7 linked regions of the Homo sapiens genome follow. The protein of the gene in region 6 interacts with the protein of the main gene of each other region in a biochemical or structural test. Each region holds a gene or a part of one and is shown on either strand. Other genes may lie near its edges.

Evidence for each region.
Region 1: the proteins of KPNA1 (region 6) and RBBP4 form a complex in vitro, tested with the Homo sapiens proteins (one study listed by BioGRID).
Region 2: the proteins of KPNA1 (region 6) and OGT form a complex in vitro, tested with the Homo sapiens proteins (one large-scale study listed by BioGRID).
Region 3: the proteins of KPNA1 (region 6) and HIF1A form a complex in vitro, tested with the Homo sapiens proteins (one study listed by BioGRID).
Region 4: the proteins of KPNA1 (region 6) and NPM1 form a complex in vitro, tested with the Homo sapiens proteins (one study listed by IntAct).
Region 5: the proteins of KPNA1 (region 6) and PKM form a complex in vitro, tested with the Homo sapiens proteins (2 studies listed by BioGRID).
Region 7: the proteins of KPNA1 (region 6) and RANBP2 form a complex in vitro, tested with the Homo sapiens proteins (one study listed by BioGRID).

What each region holds. Positions count from the first base shown.
Region 1 is NC_000001.11:32,657,708-32,661,207, reverse strand, and holds part of RBBP4 (histone-binding protein RBBP4), read right to left. Parts: intron 1-3,500. UniProt on the Homo sapiens protein: Core histone-binding subunit that may target chromatin assembly factors, chromatin remodeling factors and histone deacetylases to their histone substrates in a manner that is regulated by nucleosomal DNA.
Region 2 is NC_000023.11:71,560,604-71,564,103, reverse strand, and holds part of OGT (UDP-N-acetylglucosamine--peptide N-acetylglucosaminyltransferase 110 kDa subunit), read right to left. Parts: intron 2,330-3,500; coding exon 2,204-2,329; intron 1,258-2,203; coding exon 1,087-1,257; intron 975-1,086; coding exon 858-974; intron 776-857; coding exon 605-775; intron 1-604. UniProt on the Homo sapiens protein: Catalyzes the transfer of a single N-acetylglucosamine from UDP-GlcNAc to a serine or threonine residue in cytoplasmic and nuclear proteins resulting in their modification with a beta-linked N-acetylglucosamine (O-GlcNAc).
Region 3 is NC_000014.9:61,698,513-61,702,012, reverse strand, and holds part of HIF1A (hypoxia-inducible factor 1-alpha), read right to left. Parts: intron 1-3,500.
Region 4 is NC_000005.10:171,394,349-171,397,848, reverse strand, and holds part of NPM1 (nucleophosmin), read right to left. Parts: intron 1-3,500. UniProt on the Homo sapiens protein: Involved in diverse cellular processes such as ribosome biogenesis, centrosome duplication, protein chaperoning, histone assembly, cell proliferation, and regulation of tumor suppressors p53/TP53 and ARF.
Region 5 is NC_000015.10:72,203,691-72,207,190, reverse strand, and holds part of PKM (pyruvate kinase PKM), read left to right. Parts: coding exon 1-64; intron 65-310; coding exon 311-463; intron 464-3,500. UniProt on the Homo sapiens protein: Catalyzes the final rate-limiting step of glycolysis by mediating the transfer of a phosphoryl group from phosphoenolpyruvate (PEP) to ADP, generating ATP.
Region 6 is NC_000003.12:122,462,940-122,466,439, forward strand, and holds part of KPNA1 (importin subunit alpha-5), read right to left. Parts: intron 1,103-3,500; coding exon 1,003-1,102; intron 1-1,002. UniProt on the Homo sapiens protein: Functions in nuclear protein import as an adapter protein for nuclear receptor KPNB1. Binds specifically and directly to substrates containing either a simple or bipartite NLS motif.
Region 7 is NC_000002.12:108,781,982-108,785,481, reverse strand, and holds part of RANBP2 (E3 SUMO-protein ligase RanBP2), read right to left. Parts: intron 3,355-3,500; coding exon 3,081-3,354; intron 2,955-3,080; coding exon 2,620-2,954; intron 1,887-2,619; coding exon 1,581-1,886; 3' UTR 1-1,580. UniProt on the Homo sapiens protein: E3 SUMO-protein ligase which facilitates SUMO1 and SUMO2 conjugation by UBE2I. Involved in transport factor (Ran-GTP, karyopherin)-mediated protein import via the F-G repeat-containing domain which acts as a docking site for substrates.

The sequences.
Region 1 (3,500 bases), on a different chromosome or scaffold from region 6:
CTTGTATGTTCACTGTAGCATTATTCACAATACCAAAGATACGGAAATCAACCCAAGTGTCCATCAATGGTTGACTGAATAAAAAAATTTTTTTGGCTGAGTATAGTGGCTCATGCCTATAAGCCCAGAACTTTGGGAAGCCAAAGTGGGTGAATTGCAAGAGCCCAGGAGTTTTCAGACCAGCCTGGGCAACGTGGTGAGACCTACTCTCTACAAAAAATACAATGGAAATCAGCTGGGCATGGTGGCGCATGCCTGCAATCCCAGCTACTCAGGACGCTGAGGCAGGAGGACTGCTTGAGCCCAGGAGGCAGAGGTTGCAGTAAGCGGGGATTGTGTGACTGCACTCCAGCCTGGGTGACAAAGCAAGACTCCGCCTCAAAATAACAACAAAAACTCAATCATTTAGGAAAAAAAGGCTGGATTCTGATTCCATACCAAATACCAGAATGACAAAAGTTTTAATGGCCCAAACATAAAAGTCCCAGAAGACAACAATAGATGAACACATACTTTATGAAATCATTGAATGGGAGGTCTGAGGTGGGAAGATTGAGGCCAGAGTTCCAGATCAGCCTGAGCAACATAGTGACATGCCATCTCTTAAAAAAAAAAAAAATTAAGTTATCTGGGTGTGGTGGTGGGCGCCTGTAATCCCAGCTACTTGGGAGGCTGAATCAGGAGAATAGCTTGAATCTGGGAGACGGAGGTTGCAGTGAGCAGAGATTGCGCCACTGCACTACAGCCTGGGCGACAGAGCCAGACTCCGACTCAAAAAAAATAAATAAATAAAATAAAAATCCAGGTATGGTGGTGTATGTCTGTAGCCAGAGCTACTTGGGAGGCATAGGTGGGAGGATCGTTTGAGCCCATAAGGAGGCTGCAGTCAGCTAAGATCATGCCAGTGCACTCCAGTCTGGGTGACAGAGCAAGGCTCCATTAAAAAAGCAACTTACAGCTTCTAACCAATAACAGGACTTAAGATTTTAAGTTAAACAAGAAAATGATCTGCACCTATTTATTGGGTGGAGAAGGTATAATTTACCTTATATGAAGAGGTAACTCAAAAGGAAATACGGGCAAAAAACATAAATAAACAGGAGATGTAAGCTCAACATCACAAATAAAAAAAGCAATGTAAACTTGAGAATGAACTCTACTGAGTCCAGTGTTGGCAAAGGCATGGAGAAACAGACATAAATACATACGCTGTTGTGGGACTTCAAATCTTTTTCTGGAGTGCAACTTAGCAGTATCAATTATATTAAAAAACGGTCCTGCCCTTTGATACAACATTCTACTTAGAAAGTATTTCTATAGCAAAACTATGCTTTTGAAGTCAAAAAATTAGAAACCATCTAAATGTCTATCAGTAAGGAATAGTTAATTATGGTCTACTATACAGCCATCAAAAGGAGGCAGGTCTCCATCTACTAACAAAGATACATGCCCCAGATATATTAGGCCATAAAAGCAAATTATGAACCTATATTGCATATTCTATACCTGGCATACAAAATTACTCAACATATTTGTTGAATGAGTGATCCAATACACAGGATAAATCCTTCAGAAAACAATACATCACAATACATCCATTTAAGTGATATCCAGGGGAAAGGTTTTTCTTTTGTTTTGTTTTTGAGACGGAGTTTCCCTTTTTTTTTTTGCCCAGGCTGGAGTGCAATGGTGAGATCTCGGCTCACTGCAATCTCTGCCTCCCGGGTTCAAGTGATGCTCTTGCCTCAGCCTCCTGAGTAGCTGGGATTACAGGTGCGTGCCACTGCACATGGCTAATTTTGTATTTTTAGTAGAGACAGGGTTTCACTATGTTGGCCAGGCTGGTCTTGAACTCCTGACCTCAAGTGATCCACTGGTCTCAGCCTCCCAAAGTGCTGGGATTACAGGAGTGACTCACCGCACCCGGCCAGGGAAAGGTTTATTATATGGGAGAAGGGGTGCGTTTTTTACATTGTGTGTAAAATTACATATATATGTAAAACCACATATATGTGTGTGTATACATTTATATTGTGTGTGTGTAAAATTACATATATTTTATATATATAAAATTTATATGTATATATAAATTATATATATTACACACAATATAAATATATACACATGTAGTTTTACATATATAATTTATATATTTATATATAAATATAATACATTTATATTATCTAAAATTATATATAACTATATTTTACACACAATATATACACGCATGTAGTTTTACATATACATACATATATACGTATGTTTATATATAAATATAACATTTATATTGTGTAAAATTACACATATAATTTTACACACACAATATAAATATATACACACACATATATGTAGTTTTACAATTTATCACACTACCAATCAGAGTATTTGTGCCTCAGTAACAAGAACAAAAGGCAGGAGGATCATTTGAGGTCCGGAGTTCGAGACCAGCCTGACCAACATGATGAAACCCTGTCTCTACTAAAAATACAAAAAATTAGCCAGGCGTGGTGGTGCATGCCTGTAGTCCCAGCTGCTTGGGAGGCTGAGGCAGGAGAATCGCTTGAACCTGGGAGGTGGAGGTTGCAGTGAACTGAGATCGCGCCACTGCACTCCAGCCTGGGCAGCAGAGCGAGACTCCATCTCCAAAAAAAAAAAAAGGAAAGCGTTTAAGCATTTCATGAGCAGTTAAACCCTTAGGTTATGGCCTAAAAACAGGATATAATTAAACAACTCATTGGAACTTAGTTTCTATACACATAGAGAGTGCCATGGTTAAGTCATTTCTACCACTTTAAACCTAGAAAGGGTAATTTAAGTTAGTGTTTCTCAACCTTTTTTTTTTTTTTACTATTGCTCCTCTAAGAACTCTTTTAAGAACTATTCCCTCCCCACCAGTCCCATGAAATTTTAATACCATAGATATCCTATGTCCTCTGTGCATATCTGTGCTTTAAACAATCAACCAGTAAGATTATTTACACCTACTCACATACACAAACCAATTTTCACCTCCTTAGGGGTAGTTATCTCCCGTGTTAAGAATGTATAGCAATATGGATGGGTGCAGTGGCTCACGCCTGTAATTCCAGCACTCTGAGAGGCTGAGGTGGGTGGATCACCTGAGGTCAGGAGTTCAAGACCAGCCTGGCCAACTTGGTGAAACCCTGTCTCCACTAAAAATACAAAAATTAACTAGGCGTGGTGGCGGGCGCCTGTAATCCCAGCTACTCAGGAGGATGAGGCAGAAGAATCGCTTGAACCCGGGAGGCGGAGGTTGCAGTGAGAGAAGATCGTGCCACTACACTCCAACCTAGGCAATAGAGCGAGACTGAGTAAAAAAATAAAAAATCAAGAATGTACAGCAATAATATATATTTTTGCTTCTTTCAATTGCAGAAATCCTCCCCACCAGCACCAGCTGAGAAAAGTTTATTGTGAAGGTACAGAACCAAGGATGTGTTAAGTATTTCTTCTGATACCTAAAACTCTAATATAAATAT
Region 2 (3,500 bases), on a different chromosome or scaffold from region 6:
TGCCTTACACTCTCTTGATAGAGCTACTTATTTAAGCATGCAATATATTATTTATTGAGTACATACTACATTACTGTGATTAAGACATGGGCTCAGTAATTCAATTCAGTAGAGGATACAAACACAGGGAATTATCATCTGTTGTGCTGTATGTAATGATATATTCCAAACATTACAGAGGTATAAAAGACAGGTACCAATGAAGTAGGGATGGAGACGTTAGCGGTAAGTACGGAAATGGATTCCTGGAAGAGCTGTCTGAACTGAACGTTTGAGTAGGATTTAGCTAGGGAAAGGATGGGTTTACAGAAGCAAGAAACTGTATGGAATCTACACATAGTTCATCATGTAAGAGAGTAAAGCCACAGGCAGGGAATAACAAGATATTAACACAGCAGTTTCTCAGTAAGTAATAATCTGCTGGCTGAATCCAGGAGACTTTTAAAATCAGACACACCTATATAAGATGCACGTTTCCACTAAACTCATTTCCTCATCCATAAAAATGGTGATAATGATACTTGCCTCCTAGAGTTATCATGAGGTTAAGGGAAATAAATGCATACTTGGCGGGACATATAATGGTGTATTATTATCTTCTCACCTGAGTAGTTGCCAGTCCATTGCTAATACTGAATCCATTAATTGTTATTTGAATCTGTCCTCGGTTAATCATTTCAATAACTGCTTCTGCAATAGTATTCATAGGAATAACAGGCATATTAAGAGCTGTGTTACTGCTATCTGCATTGTCTCCTCCATCAGGACACTTCATCTGAAAAAAAAATGCATCATTAGGGAAAAGATCGTGAATGCAGTTAACTTTATTTCAATGACAATACTGACTAGGTTCTGACCTTGACAATTTTCACATCTGGTAGACTATCAAGAAATGCTTTGAGGTCGATGCCATTCAGAACTATCCGATTGTCATAAATGTGCCCATTGGACTTAAAATCGATGACTGCTTTTTTCTAATGGAAAAAATAGTTTCAGACATGTCTTTTAGGATTTACATAGACAATAGCAAGGAAATAAAAAGCTACAGTTCTTTGAAATTCGTCCATAGCACTGTTTCATACCTACCTTCAGGTGAGGGAACATATTAGCATGATCACCAATAAAAAAAGTGTGGGGCATATAAGCCAATTTCTCGGAATACTGCTCAGCAACTTCAGCTGGCGAAGTTTCCTGATCAGTGATAATATAATCCATGAAAAGCGCACCACTCGTCCCAGGGTATCCCAGCCACATTGCCTTAAAAAAATCAGATCAAAAACTGATTAAGAACTTTTATCAGTACACTTACCTCTAAATTCATCAAGTCACATACATTAAATATGTACAACTTTTTGTATGTCAACTGTACCTCAATAAAGTGGTTTTTAAAAAAAGAACCTAAAGGTGCCAAAATTAAATAAGTAAATAAACAAGGAGGTCTAACTCTTTTTTAGAGACAGGATCTCACTCTGTTCCCTAGGCTGGAATACAGTGGTGCAATCGTAGATCACTACAGCCTCAAACTCCTGGGCTCAAGCAATCCTTCTGCCTCAGCCTCCAGAGTAGCCAGGATTACAGGCACTTGCCACACGCACAGCAAGGCTGACTTCTTTAGCCGAAAGCAATGAAGCAGTTCTATAAGAGAGACTCTTACTCTGTCACCTGGGCTGGAGTGCAGTGGCATAGTGATAGTTCACTGCAGCCTCAAACTCCTAAGCTTAAGCAATCCTTCCACCTTAGCCTCCCAAATAGCTGGGATCACAGAGGCACACCACCACTCTGGCTAATTTTTTAATTTTTTGTAGAGATAGGGTGTTTTGCTTTGTTGCCCAGGCAGGACTCAAACTCCTGGTTTCAAGAGATCCTCCTGCCTAAGCATCCCAAAGTGCTGGGATTACAGGCGTGAGCCACCATACCCGGCCTGTATTTCAGACTAACTTTCAAAATGCTAAAATGTTCTTCAAATTTGCAAGACAGAGTAACTGTTCATAGCCAACCATGAATTGCATGTCTCTATATACATGTACCTATAAGCACTGTGCTCTACACTCTTTTTGTCCTGTGCATTTCAACAACTTAAAAAAATTAAAAGTATGTCTGCCCTACAGTTTCAAATATCAGTTAACCAGAGGGAGGAAAAGCAGCACCTCACTGTATTCTTAGCCAAATACATGTTATAAGTGATGACTGTTAATTTGTTTACCTGAATAGGAGCTGGCCTGAGAGCAAAAAGCTCATTTCGAGCGCCCTTAGTATAGCCATTCATATTTACAAGGATATGAATTCCATCCTGATGGATGCGATCAGCTGCTTTTCCATTGCATGGAATCTACAGAATACAAAATAAGAACTCACTATGTATAATCTCAGATCAATTAGTTTTAATGACATTTAGTTTTAATGGCATTTAGTTTTAATGGCATTTAACATAATTCAGATTCCCAGATGGAAAAGAGGTAAGAACACAAATTAACTACATTAATTCGGGCACAAATATGGTTGACTGTCATTAAAATGGGCCCAAAGCATTAAAGAAACAGAACACAAAGGAAGGAGAGTTCACTTCTGGATTGAATGTATGAATAACAACATATCACAGAGAAATTGGTATTTGAAATTTGTAATCTTTTTTTTTTTTTTGGTAGGGATGGGGTCTCACTATGTTGCCCATGATGGTCTCAAGCAATCCTTCCACCTCAGCCTCCCAAAGGATTATACACGTGAGCCACAGCACCCAGCCTAGAATTGGTATTTGAAAATAGGTCTTCAAAGACGAATAGGAGTTTGAAGGAGTTTAACAGAATACAATCTCAGTAGAGAACAGTATGAATGAAGAACTAGAGTAAAGTGTGAGGGAGTTTAGAAAATGGTGAGTAGGCCGGGCATGGTGGCTCACATCTGTAATCCCAGCCCTTTGGGAGGCCGAGGCAGGTGGATCACCTGAGGTCAGGAGTTCGAGACCAGCCTGGCCAATGTGGTGAGACCCCGTCTCTACTAAAAATACAAAAATTAGCCGGGTGTGGTGGCAGGCGCCTGTAATCCCAGCTACTCGGGAGGCTGAGGCAAGAGAATCGCTTGAACCTGGGAGGCAAAGATTGCAGTGAGCCGAGATCGTGCCACTGCATTCCACCCTGGGCGACAAGAGCAAAACTCCATCTCAAAAAAAAAAAGGGTGAGTAATTCACTTCTATTTAGTATAGGGTATACAAGATGTTGAATGGTGAGTTAAAGTATTGACAAAGTTGTGGCAAACAGAGAAAGGTTACAAAAGCTATGCTGAAGAGTTTAGACTGCAATCAATCAGCAGTGAGTCCCTAAAGGTCTCAGAGGTAGAAAGAGGTATGCTTCTTGGTCACAAAGAGTCCAACTGTGTATCAAAAATGGCCAGGTATACTTTTGAAGCAACAGCTATACTGCAAAATTTGTTAGTACATACTATTTATTAAATGAGAAGTCTCAAAACCTTTCTGCTAGGACTTCAGTGATTCATATATATATAC
Region 3 (3,500 bases), on a different chromosome or scaffold from region 6:
CACAGATTTCTTTTTTAATTTTTTTGAAACACAGTCTTGCTCTGTCACCCAGGCTGGAGTGCAATGGGGCGATCTTGGCTCACCGCAACCTCCGCCTCCCAGGTTCAAGCAATTCTCCTGCCTCAGCCTCCTAAGTAGCTGGGATTACAGGCACCCGCCACCACGCCTGGCTAATTTTGGTATTTTTAGTAGAGATGGGGTTTCACCATGTTGGCCAGGCTGGTCTCGAACTCCTGACCTCAGGTGATCCACCCACCTCGGCATCCCAAAGTACTGGGATTACAAGCATGAGCCACCGCGCCCAGCCCACAAATTTCAAATTCAGCCTACTTGGGATTTGGTCCACTGAAACATATCCAGTTTTATAATGGAAAGGGGGAGGGTAGAAATCATTTTAAAGAAATTTGCTTAGCATCTGAATTTACAAGACTCTTAAGAACAGAAACGTATCCCAACCCTCAAAGACTTCAACTTTCGCCTTTAAACCTTATTTTTAACCATAGTATTTTTCAGCTGGAAAAACAAATCCTCCCAAACTACTTGGAAAAAAAAAAGGGGGAAACACGGGGGACCTGTCCTTAATGAGTGAAAATTGCAATATTAAATACTAGACACTTTTAAATTAATTTGCCTAAATATATTGTGACTTTTCAAACAAGTGAAGAACTACATACAGTAAACTATGTTCCATCACTACATTTTCCCATTTACAAGATAATAAATTTTCAAAATCATATGTTGAAATAATCTTTATGGTTAAAACTGTAACCGGTTAAGGTGAAATTTTAAAATAAAGAAACACTCATAAATAACAGTTGAGATCACCAGAACAGCTAAAAGCTAACATCTTGGGAACAGTTTTTAATAAAAATACATTATTTCAATTATTGTTTTAAATCTTAGAGAACAAATTTCCTAATTAAATTGGGCTTTATCAACAATAGAACAGGTGTACACTATTTTACCCAAAAAGTGTTTCTGTGAAAAAGTACTGGCATAACAAATCTAAGTCACTAGAAAAATTGAATTCTCCTTTTAGAGGTACTTACTCTCCTTTCAGTTAAAGCTTCCACTGGCAAACTGTAGTTAGCTTTCAGCTGGTTAATTATCCACAAACAAGCCCTTAAAAACAATCACTTCAACATATTAGATGGCTACCACTTTGCCACATTAGATGGCTAAGAAAGAAAGAGAAGAGAAGGAAGGAAAGAAAGAAAACAAGTGTTTAGAAGGATGTGGAGAAATAGGAACCCTTGTGCACTGTTGGTGGGAATGTAAACTGGTGCAACTGCTATAGAAAACAATATGGTGGTTCCTTGAAAATTAAAAAGGGTTACCATATGATCCAGCATCCCTCTTCTGGATATGTATCCAAAAAAAGTGAAAGCTTCAAAGAGAGATTTGCAGACTCATGTTCAGAGCAGCACAATAACCAAGATGTGGAAGCAACCCAAGTGTCCGTTGCTGGATGAATGGAGAAACAAAATATGGAACATATAATGGAATATTGCTCAGACTCAAAAAGGAAGGAAATTCTGACACATGCTACAACATGGATGAACCTTGAGGACATTACACAAAGTGAAATAAGCCCATCACAAAAATATTAAAACCCTATAATTCTATTTATATGAGGCATCTAGAGTAGTTAAATTTGCAGAAACAGAAAGTAAAATGGTGGTTGCCAGAGGCTGAGGAGAGGGGGAAATTGGGAGTTGTTTAATGGGTAAGATTTCAGCTTTGCAAGATGAAAAAGTTCTGGAAGTTAGTGGCACAATGTGAATATACTTAACACTACTGAACAGTACTTAGAAATGGTTAAGATGGTAAATTTTAGGTTAATGTTTTTGAACTACGATTTTAAAAAACAATCAAAAGCTATAAGAAAAAAGCCATGAGGTAATCACATTTTTGTTTTTATGAAACAAAAATTTTAAATTTTGTTTTAAAAATTCAGGTTTTAGATACTAGATTTCTCTAAAGGGATCATGTCTGGCAAATAAATAAGGGTTTATAAATTTCTACTGCAGAAAACATGAACATTAATACTCAACGCATATACAAAACAGTTAATTCTTGATGTGTCAAGAGACCAAGAGATATAATTATTTTTAAAATTCCAAAGCCTATAGTTAATTTAAACAATCTGACCATATTTTTACCAAAAATACTGAGCAACAAGAAGCTTGGCTTGTCTTAGTTTCAAATTCTCTTTCTAACCTTCCAGAGTTAAGCAGAAAACACATACACACACTGGGTAAAATCCACCCACTGGATAACTAGTCACAAAGTTTAAAAAATCAATTTCTTGATTGGAAACTCATCCAACATCACATTTAAATTTAGATTTTTTTATCCTGGTTAAGAAACAGACTTATGTTAATCTTAGATAAAGGGATACAGTATTTTAAGTATCTAAATTTAAAAAATTATATACTAAGAGAAGGCATCTATGAACACACAATTTAACCCAAATCTTTAACATCCATGCACATCAATTTTTATTTCACCACCAAACATAATAAACTGAGTTCTTCAGAAAAAAAAAAAAAATCAGTCAAGAGACTAAATAATCCCCCTCAGCTTTCTATACACCACTCTTGACATACAAGAATAGAATGTAACCACAAAATCTAAACCCTGAGCCGTGACACCATTAGAGTCACAGACAATGGCGTTAAAAGTAAAGACAATGGAAGTTAACAGGTAGAAAAGTTGACATTCTCCAAACTGCACAAGGTGCTCTGCAGTGGACCGTAGGAATGAACTCCAATACTTTCTCAGTCTAAAATAACTCGATAGTTCAGTAAATACACACGTGTGGAAGAGTGCATAGACTTCATACAAATTGAGCCACAAAACAGACCAGTAAGACAAGCTTGAAGTCTTGCCTTCAGATGGAACCCAATGGTCTTAACTCTGGAGAAACTCATAAGCAAAGGACAGTTTTTCTACCACGTAGCTGCTTTACTGAGAATATTTTATCAACTCATTATCTTTTACAAAGGTTAATTTTTATAAAATTGTCTAAACTTTGGCATCAAGACGAAAAATGTTTTAACTTACTGCCAGTACTAAGAATGCAGTGTCTTGCACATATCTTGCTTAAATGAACAGTAAGACTAGAATACTGTGTATGTTTGACTCTAGAGTCCAGAGTAAACTCAGTATTCTATTTGGGGAGAAAACACAGGGGTGAGCAATTGTGAAGCAGGAGGCCTCCACTAGAGTAGAGAGCAGATCAGATGCTCAAGAAAAATAACTGATACTAGGTGCCAATATAACCCAAGGATGTACTCTTTTGCCCATTGTAACAGGAAAAAAACGCTTTTCAAGCTCTGGATCCAATGTTAGTCTTTTCACTTTCAGGAGATAGAAAAGATGCATGAAGACACAGAAAAGAAACTAAAGGAAACAGCTGGAAGGACTAGCAAAAAAGAGTTTTAAGAGTTGTGGAAGTTTAAACAAGAATTTTAACAGGTAACATCTATTTTCAAGTA
Region 4 (3,500 bases), on a different chromosome or scaffold from region 6:
GCACTCAAGCCTGGGCAACAGAGACTTGTCAAAAAAAAAAAAAAAAGAATTCTTGCCAGGCACAGTGGCTCACAGCTGTAATCTCAGCAGTTTGGGAGGCAGAGGGAGGTGGATCACTGAAGACAGGAGTTTAAGAACAGCCTGGCCAACATGGCAAAACCCCTTCTCTACTAAAAATACAAAAATCATATCAAAAAGAAAAAAGAAAAAAGAATTCTTACAACTTAGTAAAGACAAAGAGAAGTAAATGGATTTAAGTGGGCAAAAACATTTCTCCAAAGATATATGGCCAATGAATACATGAAAAGATGCTCATTATTAGTCCACAGGGAGACGCAATCAAACCCACAATCAGCACTTCATACCACCAGGATTAGAGTCAGATAATGGCAAGTGAGGGTGTAGTGAAATCAGTAGGTTGGAGTGAAATCAGAAGCCCCATACACTGCTAGTGGGAATACAATGGGTGAGCCACTCTGCTTTAGGTGTACATCCAAGTAAAATGACATGTCTACAAGCGTTCATAGCAGTCAACAAGTAGAAGCAACTCAAATGCTCACCAACTGATGAATAACCAAACATACCCATACAATGTATTCAACCATATAAATAAATGGAGTACTGATAATGCTATAACATGGATGAAACTTGAAAACACTGTGCTAAGAAAACAGTCACAGAAGTCCATTCGTGCAAAATATGAGGGACAGGAAACCTATAGACAAAGTTCATTCGTGGTTGACTAGAGCTGAAGAGCATGAGGGGTAATACCTATAGAGTACGATTTCTCATTGAGGTGATGAAATGTTCTAAAATTGATTATGGTGATGGCTACACAACTATGCATACTAAAACCACTGAACTGCACACTATTTTTTTTTGAGTTTTACTCTTGTTGCCCAATCTGGAATGCAATGGTGCGATCTCGGCTCACTGCAACCTCCGCCTCCCGGGTTCAAGCAATTCTCCTGCCTCAGCCTCCCCAGCAGCTGGGATTGCAAGCGCCCACCATCACACCCAGCTGTATGTTAGCAGAGACGGGGTTTCACCATATTGGCCAGGCTGGTCTTCAACTCCTGACCTCAGGTGATCTGCCCGCATCGACCACCCAAAGTGCTGGGATTACAGGTGTGAACTGTTAATAGGTAAACAATGGAGGGGAGTAATCAAATCGAGTCACTGGAGGGCAAGTCAGGCAGAAGTCTCTATTAGCAAATACCAAGGGGTTCACGTTTAATTCAACAACTGAACGTACTGGTCTCTAAATCCCAATACAGCAACTTCATGTAAGAAACACCTATCTTTCCAATACCGAAGAAATATTTGCTGTATTTAGAAAAAGTATCATAACTTAAAAAGCTGTCACAAATAGCCCTTCAAGTGGCTTTTTAACAGTGATTTTGTCAGTACAAGTTTCTGGCATTAGAACCCAATCCCTGCAGGTGCCTCCCCTGTGCTAGAAACAAGATGAGAATGCTTTTTTTAAACATTTTTTCTTATTTGTTAAAACAAGTCTATTAAACTACTATCAAAATAGCTATCAAAACTACTATCAAAACAGCTTTACTGGCAGGGTGTGGTGGCTCACACCTGTAATCTCAGCACTCTGGGAGGCTGGGGTGGGCAGATCACCTGAGGTCAGGAGTTCAAGACTAGCCTGACCAACATGGCGAAACCCCATCTCTATTAAAAATACAAAAAATTAGCCTGGCATGCTGGCACATGCCTGTAATCCCAGCTACTTGGGAGGCTGAGGCAGGAGAATCACTTGAACCCGGGAGGCAGAAGTTACAGTGAGCCATGATTGCACCACTGCACTCCAGCCTAGCCAACAATGCACTTCAGCCGGGGCAACAGAGACTGTCTCCAAAAAAAAAAAAAAAAATTCAGCTTTACTTAAGAAATTCCCCAAAAATTAAAAAAGACATTTAAGGGCCACATACTATCAACGTATTACATACATCTATGTATAGTATACATCAGCACTATGCACATTACATAGCCTTTCTTGCTTAAATCAAGAGTCATCTGAGCCCACACCATATACCCATTCCATCCTCAAAAAGGAACCAAATTCCCCTTTGATCTGTGTTCAAAAGGTTAGATTTCTAAGTAACTATAACGAACCTTCATGCACCTCTTTGCATTTTCATTGCCATCTATCTATGCTGGGCCCTTGCCATCTCACCACTGAAGTTTCTATTAATATTTGTTTCCCTCAAGGCATCCTTTACTACTATGCAGACCTTAGTACACTTTCTTCAACTTATATGAAAACTTGCGGCGGTGCATGGTGGCTCACGCCTGTAATCCCAGCACTTTGGAGTTCGAGACCAGCTTGGCCAACATGGTGAAACCCCGTCTCTACTAAAAATACAAAACTTAGCCAGGCGTGGTGGCAAGTGCCTGTAATCCAAGCTACTCTGGAGGCCGAGGCAGGAGAATCACTTGAACCTGGAAGGCAGAGGTTGCAGCGAGCAGAGATCATACCATTGCACACCAGCCTGGGGCACAAGAGCGAGACTTGCCGAAAAAAAAAAAATCCCACAAAAAAAACCAGGTACTGATTTGGACCTTGATATCTACACTTTTCATTCCTATCAATGCCCAACTTAAAGACAAACAAAATTACATTGTGGTTACATCATGAATTTATACCCATTTTTCTGAGATGGGAGTCTCCCTCTGTTGCCCAGGATGGAACACGGTGGCGCATTCTTGGCTTGCTGCAACCTCCACCTCCCAGGTTCAAGCAATTCTCCTGACTCAACCTCCTAAGTAACTGGGACCAATAGGCAGGCACCACGATACCCAGCTAATTTTTGTATTTTTAGTAGATACCGGGTTTCACCATGTTGGCCAGGCTGGTCTTGAACTCCTGACCTCAAGTGATCCACCCACCTCAGCCTCCCAAAGTGCTGGGATTACAGGCGTGAGCCACCATGCCTGGCCTAATTATATCAATTTTTAAAAAAGGAAATCTTCCAAAGCCCCAACAGGGTCAATACTACAATCAGGTCCTACTCCAAAGCCTTTCTGGAAGGGATTGCTTGTCCCCGAGCCTCGGTGAATGCTATTAAACACTTATTTTATAAACTTGTACAAAGGTAACTCAAAATCAGACTAAACCAATCCGAACCATACCATCCCTATTTCTAATTTGTGTTTTTAGCCTGTTTCCCATTCTTCTCTTGGAATGTATTTCAATTCTTACTAACGAGAAATATTCTTAAAAGTGATAACCAAACAAGCTGGGCTTGGTTATGCTCCTGTAACCCCACCTGCTTCATAGTCTGAGAGGGGAGGATAGCTTGTGCCCAGAGATTCAAGTCCAGTCTGAGTAGCATGGTAAAACACCATCTCAAGAAAAAAAGTGGCCGGGCACGGTGGCTCATGCCTGTAATCCCAGCACTTTGGGAGGATGAGGTGACCAGATCGCCCGAGGTTAGGAGTTTGAGAATAGCCTAGCCAACGTGGTGAAACCCCATGTCTATTAAAAA
Region 5 (3,500 bases), on a different chromosome or scaffold from region 6:
TGCTCAGAAGATGATGATTGGACGGTGCAACCGAGCTGGGAAGCCTGTCATCTGTGCTACTCAGGCATGTGCCCACCCTTCCCCACATTCTCATGTGCACACTCGCATGTTTGTATGGGAAAGCTCTGGAGGCTGTCTGATCTCTTCCCATGGAATTGTCGCACGTAACACACAGATAATCCCCTTCCCCCATGTACCTACACAAAGCCATACTCTGTGTACCTACTCACTATCCAGAGGATCAGCTTGCTGTCATTTGTCTCTGAAGACAGCTCAAGCTACATCTCACTAATGCTCTGTCCCCTCCCAGATGCTGGAGAGCATGATCAAGAAGCCCCGCCCCACTCGGGCTGAAGGCAGTGATGTGGCCAATGCAGTCCTGGATGGAGCCGACTGCATCATGCTGTCTGGAGAAACAGCCAAAGGGGACTATCCTCTGGAGGCTGTGCGCATGCAGCACCTGGTGAGTTCTGGGGCCTGCCCCATCCCCCAGGGCTTCGGACTGGGCCTGGGATGGATGCAAGCTCTGGTGCAGAGCTTTTTAGGTTTCTCCATCCTCTTATGCACAGCCTTTCATTATCCTCCAAGTTACAGCAGCAAGAGGGTGGGGGTGGAAGTGGAGGTGGCTTTTTTTTTTCTCCTGTTCTGCATTCCTGCCCACACCCCCACCCCTCCATTTCCTTCTGCTCTGGAGGCATCCTCCTTCATTGGACACCACACAGTTTATTTCACTTCTGACTTCAAGGTTGTGAATTCTTCCCATGGCTTAAGTCCTGGGATACTTCTGCAGTGAAAGGAGGTCTTGTACCTCTTCCTCAGAGTCAGAAGTTCTGAGTACCTTTGCCCTATTCTGAAAAGGGCTAGGGGCTCCTGCTCCCAGCTGCCCTCTTCCTTTGGCTTCCAATTCAGTTCCCTCTGCCCCGCATCCTGCAGACAGGCGCTCCCGCAGGGGGCCCTTGTGGACCTGCACTGGAGTCTGTTGCCTTCACTGAGCTGCCTGTGCTGGCCTTGCATGGTGCCTGTAGGGGGATTTGCTTTGCTGTGCCATTGGGGTACAGCTGCTGCTCTTACTCTAGACCAAAAAGTCGGGTTGAGTGACTGGTGGCAGGGCCACAGATAGAGACAGCGGGGAGGGTGGCTGACCCTGGCGGCCCTGGACTGAGCGTCTGGAGGAGTCGTGGAGGCTCTTTCCCTTCTTTCTCCTCTGAGAGCTCGTTCTTCAGGCTCTTCCAGCTTGTCATGTCGAGTGCCTGGCCACTGCTCAGGGTTGGAGGCTCAGTCCCTTTGCCCTGTCTGTTCCAGCTCTGGAGCTAACTCAGGGATCCCTGATCAGGGTTACATAGGTTTGGTAAAATGAGTGCTGGAAATTAACTTTCTCCCAGTAGTCTTAGGTCATGCTCAGTGAACTTAAACTTTATCCAGATATGGTTTTCCTTCAGCCTTTCTATTCCCTTTCTAGCCAGTGAAAGACCCGCTGCCCTTTGACCTCAGCCCCTCCAAGCCCCCAAGTTTAAAACGCCACCCCCTGCCACCAGAAAAAACAGAAAAAAAAAAAAAAAAAAAAAACTAAAACACCCATCTGGTCTGGGCATCTTCCTTTCCTTTTTCACTATGTATCCTGTTACTGGGCTTAAACAGCTTTCAGAGAAGAGATGTCATTTCTATTAAATGCTCTTTCAGTAGCGAACTGAGTTCACACTTGACTAAGGATATTTTCCGGACTGTCTGTCATCAGCATCCTTAGTGGGTTTCCCCATATTTAAATTGGTAGAGGCCAGGGATGGTGGCTCACACCTGTAATCTCAGTACTTTGGGAGGCCAAGGTAGGTGGATTGCTTGAGCTCAGAAGACCAGCCTGGGCAACCTGGTGAAACCCTGTCTCTACTAAAAATTCAAGTTAGCTAGCTGGGCATGGTGATGCACTTCTGTAGTCCCAGCTACTTGGAGAGGGGGTGATGCTGGGGCAGCAGGATCGCTTGAACCCAGGAGGTTGAGGTTGCAGTGAGCCAAGATGGTACCAGCCTAGGTGACAAAGTGACACCCTGTCTCAAAAAAGAAACCAAACAAACATAAAAAAAAAAACAAAAAAATCGGTAGAGAGTGATTTCTCTCCCAGGCCCACTTAATGTAGACTGGGCCTGGCTGACACCTCACCATTCGTGTGATGTGATTGCTGTTCTGATGCTTAGATACTCTTGGCGCAGTCTCACAATTGCCACCATGGTAGGAAGGTGTCCCAGGAGACGGTGCACCTTGAACCAGTCACCACTAAAGTGGCTGCCTTTCTGGGTCTCTCCACACATCCCCTCTCTCTAATTTCCCTACTTAATCGTGTGACTTCATGGTCTCAAAGGAGGAACAGAGGCTGATCTTGACTTAGATATACTGAACCATGAAATCACTGCATAGAATGTGGGGACTTGAATGTGTCTTTGGGCAAGTCATTTAACCTCTTAAGACCTCATCTGTAAAATGGATTAGATATGTTTAATTATAGCCTTAGCATTAAATATTCATTGCTGTTATTATTAAGTGTCTGATAAGTCTCTGTGTACATGGATGTAATCTTCCTAACTCCCATTACCTCCATTTATAGATGAGGGTTATATGGCCAATAAAGCCTGGGTTTGAATCTAGGTCTACTGCCTCCAAAGCCAGTCTTCTCTCCTGCAACATCATGCTCTGTCTAGCAGGAGATGAGAACAGGTCTCCATTTGGAGCCTGTCAGTGGGGTCAGAGACTAAGATTCAGGCTCAGGGTCTAAATTCCATATCCTTTCTTCCATACCCTGGTGTTTCCTATGAACAGATAGATACTTTAGGGCTGCAAGGTTTGGATTGCATGGCACTGCTCAGAAGATAAGTTACAGGTCTGGGCTAGGCTGTAGCTGCCCCTCCAGGTGGCTAGACCTTTCCTTTCTGTGTCACCAGTTAACACTGGCCAACAGTTCCTTCCATTAACTGTTCACTGCTTTCTCCTGTGTCTAACTGATGCAGTTTATGACCCATAACTAAGAGCAGTACCAGGTATGGCTCTGTTTCCTGTTCATGTCCCCTGTCCTCTGGGCTGCATGCATTCCGTTCTTACAGAAAGAATACCTTTAACCTAGTACATCCTGCCACACATCTGCTTCTACTGTGAAATTGATGAGGGGGTATTACCGATTCTTCCCTCACCCATCATTTACTGAGATGCTGGTGATTGCATTATAATCCTCTAAAGCTTACATTGTCTTTCTGATTCTTGGTCTTATCTGAGCAAGTGATCTATAAATAACTCAGTGGCTTTCTCATGACTGTTTTAATTATTAGATTTTAATCAAGTGTCTTATTAAATATATCTGCATGCTTCCACAGGCATCTGTCTCTTCACATGGCTGTTCAGTGTGCCTCTCACAAGTTAGCCCACGTTTTCTGTTCTCCTGCTTCAAACTCAGTTGAGCTGCCTTGCTTTGGCTTTGATCCCAGCTTTCCAGCGCTGCTCAATCTGTTGCCATGGCA
Region 6 (3,500 bases):
CAGCCGGGTGCGGTGGCTCATGCCTGTAATCCCAGTATTTTGGGAGGCAGAGGCAGACGGATCATGATAGGATATCGAGATCATCCTGGCCAACATGGTGAAATCCTATCTCTACTAAAAATACAAAAAAGGCCGGGCGCAGTGGCTCACGCCTGTAATCCCAGCACTTTGGGAGGCCGAGGCAGGAGGATCACAAGGTCAGGAGATCGAGATCCTGGCTAACACAGTGAAACACCGTCTCTACTAAAAATACAAAAAATTAGCTGGGCACGGTGGCGAGCGCCTGTAGTCCCAACTACTTGGGAGGCTGAGGCAGGAGAATGGCGTGAACCCGGGAGGCGGCGCTTGCAGTGAGCCGAGATAGCGCCACTGTACTCCAGCCTGGGCGACAGAGTGAGACTCCATCTCAAAAAAAAAAAAAAAATACAAAAATTAGCTGGGGGTGGTGGCGTGTAACTGTAATCCCAGCTACTCGGGAGACTGAGGCAGGAAAATCGCTTGAACCAGGGAGTCGGAGGTTGCAGTGAGCCAAGATCGCGCCCAGCCTGCACTCCAGACTGGCAACAGAGCCGTCTTTAAAAAAAAAAAAAAAGGTAATCACCCTGCCCACCAGTAAATGCATTCCTAACTTTCAGTGGTAAATTGCTAACATTAAAATCAACAATCATAACTCTTTCAAGGAGTATTTTTAAAGTCACTCTATAAAAAAAAGTCAGTCTCTCAATTTGAATTAACATGATACTGACTACTATTCACTATAAAGTCTTTTATAAAATAACCCAAAAATGAAAATAATTCTGTTTTCTGATCCTGGTGAGATCCCACAAATAAATAGGAAACTTAAAATTTAGGCATGGTTCACAATTACATATATGTCTGTATTTTTATTCTTTTATTGATAAAAATACTCCAACACAAATTACCTGTGGTATGAAAAACAGACTATGGGAAAGTAATTTTGTAGAGAGATGAAAAAATATACTGAACATATTCATAGCTCACCTTTTGAAAGCAGCTTCCTGAATTTCTGTGTTGCTGAAAGCTGTTGCTCTGGGCTTTTGGAAAATATCATTTCAATCATGTCAGAAGTGATGACACCACCCTGCGATCACAAACAAAAAGAACATATAATAAATTATCACCCTTAATTCAAAGGAAAGAAAGATAACAGATATCATGGCCAAGTTATTAAGTTAATCATACTTCCCCAGAAGTTACATAAAGGTAGGACAATCTTTACATATAGAAACGTGTAAGATTATTAATAATATAATGAAGCCAAATTCTTTGTCTATCATTAAAAAGCTCACAGTAGAAAGTGATCTTACTAGTAAATAAGACAAGGAGCTTATTGCTCTTCCCCTCCTTGCTCATCACATAGCTGGCTATTCTTTCTTATCAAAATTAAATGTTAAGTTTTAAAAGATGGCTTTTCAAGACCTCCAAGCCTAAAGTAGCCACTTTATCTCTATCACAGCACCATATTTCAATCGTATGCCCCAGCCCTTATTACACTCCCAGATATTTTTCTGTGTTCCTCCAGTATACTGTAACTTCCTTGTAAGCCCAAGACCCTGTCTGTCTTACTCTATCACTAAGGGCTGGTGTACTGTAAATGCTCTGCAATACTTATTGAGTGAGTAAATAGAGTGGTCCTGTATAAATCCAGCCACTGCCAAATTCAACAGCTGACTCTTAAACTTATTTAAAATTTCTTTCTTGTTTTATTAAAACTTTCCAGTTTCCCACTACCTTCTTGCTTTATTAGAATGTTTCCATTTCCCACCATAACTCATCCCCAGTATTAGCAGTTAATTTTCTTCTCAGGGTCATTTGTCAGAAAGAAACAAAGTTCTTATTTCATGAAGGGTAGCAGTCAACAAGATGAATTGTGAAGAAAGCTGCACTAAGCTGTAAATGCTAGATGACTGGTAAGCAATACCTAAGAATCCTCATAGGGGAATATATGACGCATTCTACTCAAGAATCAGAAAAGTAACTATTTTCAAAATTGCAAGACTGATTCCTAAATCAAGGTTTCTATATGATTTGTTATGAATATGTTTGCATAAACACATTCATATATATATATACACACATTAAGCAAATATCTTTTTCTTCCCTCTCTCATCCTCTTATAGCAAGCTGTACTGACTTTACATTACACTATTTAAGTATTGTTAACTTTACATTATAATATTTAAGTCACAGGCTATCAAGGACAGGAGTGAACATCACCCAAAGATTTTGCATCCTCTTCCGCAGAAGGAGTTAGTAAAGATGTGCCTCAACTTACAATGAATGGGGTTATGCCCCACTAATCCCATCATAAGTTGAAAATATTAAGTAAAAAGTACACTTAATACACCTAACCTACCAAACTTCATTGCCTAGCCTAGCCTACCTTAAACATGCTCAGAACACATACATTAGCCTACAGCTGAACAAATGATCTAACACAAAGCCTATTTTATAATAAAGTGGTTGACTATCTCGTGTAATTTACTTAATACTGTACTGAAAATGAGAAACAGAGTGACTGTATGGGTATTCAAAATACAGTTCCTACTGATTGCATATTGCTTTCACACCACTGTAAAGTTGAAAAATCCTGACTTGAACCCTCCTAAGTCAAGAACCATCCATACATTTTTAGTTGCACAAAGGAAAGTTGTAATCTGGCTGGGTGCGGTGGCTCACGCCTGTAATCCCAACACTTTGGGAAGCCAAGGCGGGTGGATCACGAGGTCAGGAGTTCAAGACCAACCTGGCCAATATGGTGAAACCCTGTCTCTACTAAAACTACAAAAAAATTAGCTGGGGGTAGTGGCGCACGCCTGTAGTCCAAGTTGGCCTCATCCAATCAGTTGAAACCCTTAAAAGCAAAGACTAGGTTTTCTGAAGAAAAGGGATTCAACAACATCAACTCTTAACCTGAATTTATAGTGGGCCAGTGTGCCCTACAGATTTCACACTTGCCAGCTCCCAAAGACACGAGCCACTTTCTTAAACTAAATTTCTTTCTCTCATTGGTTCTGTTTCTCTGGAGAACCCTAATACAATCCATAAAACACTTTATATTCACTTAACACTCTCTTCTTAAAAAAATTGGAAAGACTGGCTTTCTGAAGGGCCTAGAAACTTTCATCACAAAATGATGGCATTGGCTATGTCTGTATGAATTCCAAAGGAAATAATACTACCCTCCCAACTCTCAAAGAAAGCTGGTTCATGTAAACTGGAGATCTATGAAATGAAATAAAAATAAAAACTACAAAATACTATGAATAGTATGCCACCATTTACCAAAAAAAAAGGTGGGGGAGAGGAGAACATTTTAATATACAAAAGTTCTCAGAAAGAATAAATAGGAATTTAGTAATACTAGTTGCCAATGGAGAAAAATACTAGGTGGCTAAGCGGAAGAAAGATTTTTCTTCATTTTTTTTAATTGTACTTTTTTTGTTACTACAAACAACAGTACCTTTTAGGAGATAATT
Region 7 (3,500 bases), on a different chromosome or scaffold from region 6:
AAGCACTTGCATTAACTTAAGAATTTATTCTAAAATCATGACGAAGGCATCAACTGTCTCAGCTGAAAAGTTACAACACACTTTACATCAGTTTATATTACATAGATTTCCAAATAAGCCAATTTGAAATATTTAGTGTAAACATATGTAATCCATGGTTCAAGACTGAACTGATACATTTGGAGTAGGTTTATTTCAAGTATCTGGCTTTGTGGCCGAGTGGAATGGTGATGGTATACCATCACTCATTACTCGCACAACATCCCTCCCCTCTTTTGACTGGTGGTTGAACAGTTACTTGCTTTAGGATACCCAATTTCCAAATCCCCATGTAACAGGGAATAAACCTGTCTTTCCTCACTAAATAAAATGAGGTAATTTCACCCGAAAGAACACAGATGGGTGGAAGACAGTCAATATTCATAATTGCAATATACAAAATTTTGTGTTCTACCTGGATTCTTTGTAGTTCCATATTGAGTAGGCCAATAAGAACATCCTCTTTTCTTTAGCAATTTGCCTAACATTTGATACAAGCCATTTCCAAATACGTTTTTGGTGTGTATCAAACTTGAGAAACTAGGAGCTCTGGAAATTATGCAGCAGTTTGAATTTACTGCCTTTAAATTGTCTTCCTTACTTTAGAATGAACCCGAAGCGTAAGTAATGAATTTTTTGGATGTCAGTGGCTCTTAGGAATTGTCATTTTATTTCTGCTACAAAATTTACCAGAAAAAGGTACTGCAACAATCTTGTATAAAGCAAATCTTTAACGAAAGAACATGGTATAGACTTTCTAAAAATATTCATACTTTATCACAATAACTACAAGGAAAAATTCAATTTCTATCATCAGAACCAAGCTGCAGTTTCTGAGGTAGTAGAGACAGATGACAGAAAAGTTTGAAACAAAACCCCTAAAGGAAATAGTCAACTTGTTTAAAATGTAAAAATTAATCGAATATCTATGAAAGGGCACAGGAAGCTAGATATTTTAAGGAAGGAAGGTACGCTACTTACAAAGTTAACTTGTAACCACACAGGAGGTGTAAAGATTCTAGAGAAGAGCACTTTGGTTAACTCTATACGTTCTGTGGCTCTACCCATTCATAAACGAGTCTCTATGCATAAATGAGTACACCAATAGTTAAGATTACCAAATATATTTCAAACCTAAAATTAAATTATCCAAGTTGTGGTCCCTTTATTCAAATGGTAAGTATATCCATGCAGGAAGTCCAAATATCTTAAAAGGAATTAAAATTAAATTGCATATATCATATTCCTTCAATAGTTTGAGGTCTATTGCTTTTAACAAGATTAGTATTATTCCATTTTAATACGTCAGGAGTACATAAACACAAGTACACCTGAAATACACCAGTGTTTAAACTTTTATTTCACACCATGCAAGGTCAATTATAACACATTAAAAAGTGACAACAGCTATAAGCTGCAATTTTACATTTGTAAATCGGAAACGTCCATTTTCAAAAGCTGAACATAACTATCAAATTGTAATAGCTAAGCTTCAATCCAACTGCTTATACAGATGAAATTTTCTATGAACAACAATGATTTTATATCTGTCCACATTCTGTGATAGTTATTCTTCGACAAACAGACCCTTTGGGAGAACCAAATGATTCAATCTTTTTCACAGTATCCATGCCATCCTTAACAAACCCAAATACTACATGCTTAAAGTCCAAATGTTCTGCTTTCTTCAGTGTTATAACAAATTGAGAATTATTGGTATTCTGGCCTTGATTGGCCATGGATAGTAAACCAGGACCAGTATGTTTCACATCAAAATTTTCATCTTCAAATTTGTCTCCATAAATGGACTGTCCGCCTGTTCCATCATGTTTGGTGATATCTCCTCCCTGAAAAAAAGATTTATAATAAAAAAGTTAAAAATTTTTTTCAATTAATAGGAATCCTGAGTAAAATATTAAAATACACACAGAACTCATCACTACATGTTAAATCCTAAAGCCCAGCTTTCCTGAGTATAGTTTGAAAACTAAGAAATTCATATTGTTGGAAAGAAGATGAAAAATGAAAAGGTTTTTCCCATCCCTTAGTTTCTACTAGATCTCAAGTACTGAAAATTTGATTTTTTTTTTTTTTTTTTTTTTTTTTTTTAATGACAGGCTGTCTCACTCTGTCGCCCAGGATGGAGTGCAGTGGTGCAAACCTAGCTCACTGCAGCCTTGGCCTCCTGGATGCTCCCACCTCAGCTTCCTTGTAGCTGGGATCACAGACGCACACCACCACACCTGGCTAATTTTTGTATTTTTTTGTCCAGACGAGATTTTTGCCATGTTACCCAGGCTGGTCTCAAATTCCGGGGCTCAAGCAATCTGCCTGCCTTGGCCTCCTAAAGTGCTGGAATTACAGGTATGAGTCATTGTGCCCAGCCTCAATTATTTTAGGTTGAAAGTTTTAGGCAGGAGCAGGGAATGGGTAGTGATGCCATGTGATTCCATGTGTGGAAAACCTAAAGAAATCTTTAACAAAACTACAGGATGAGGTCAAGGAAAAACACTCAAATTTCCCATTAGTGTGGTGCACTCTTCAAGACCTCAATTGTGGTATGTACTTAATAATACCTACTTGGCAAACAAAATCTGGAATTACTCTGTGAAAAATGGAATTCTTGAAACCAAAGCCTTTCTCTCCAGTGCATAGTGCTCTGAAGTTCTCAGCAGTCCGAGGAACAATGTTTGAAAATAATTCCATAGTTATCCGCCCTAGAGGTTCACCGTCCGCACAAACATCAAAAAACACCACAGGATTGGTCTCCTTTGATAATTCTGCTGCCAGTGATACATGTCCTTTCTGGAGTTTCATTAAATTCTGCTGACATTCTTCAAATGTTTTCTTGAAACAATCAGCTACTTCTTTAGTTTTAAATCTCACTGCAAGCTGTTCTACTTTTGCTTCTCCATCTGGCAGGGAGGGAAAGGGGAAGCAGTGACCTTAGTATTAAAATAACTGTTATAAGTTGTTTTGTTTGTTATAGATTTTAGAAAAGTCCAAAAAATGAAAAGTAGCATTTGAATGTAAAAACTCACCAGCATAATCTGAGGCAGTCCAAACTAAAGCATTATTTGAAACATTTAAGGGCTTTAATTCCATTGTTTTAGTAATAACGTGGTTTGCACACACTTTAAAAACCTGGTCTCTTCTCATTAGGATCCGGTAATAATTCTTCATTGTATGCCAAAGAATCTTTATATCTCCAACACCGCGCTCCTTCCACTGACTGACATCCCGATCCCATCTATAAAGTTTGGCTCTCTCTTTAAACAAAATTTCTTCATCTTCTTCTCCAGATTTTACTTCTACCTATAATAGGAGATGAAATTCTCTATAAGCTGCTGCTTATAATAAATTCCATGACAAATTTCAAAGATCCAAATTCTTTTAAGGCATTTTCTTTGTGATGACAAAGAGAATTTGTTAATGTGATAACTGGTTATATATCTTAGGGC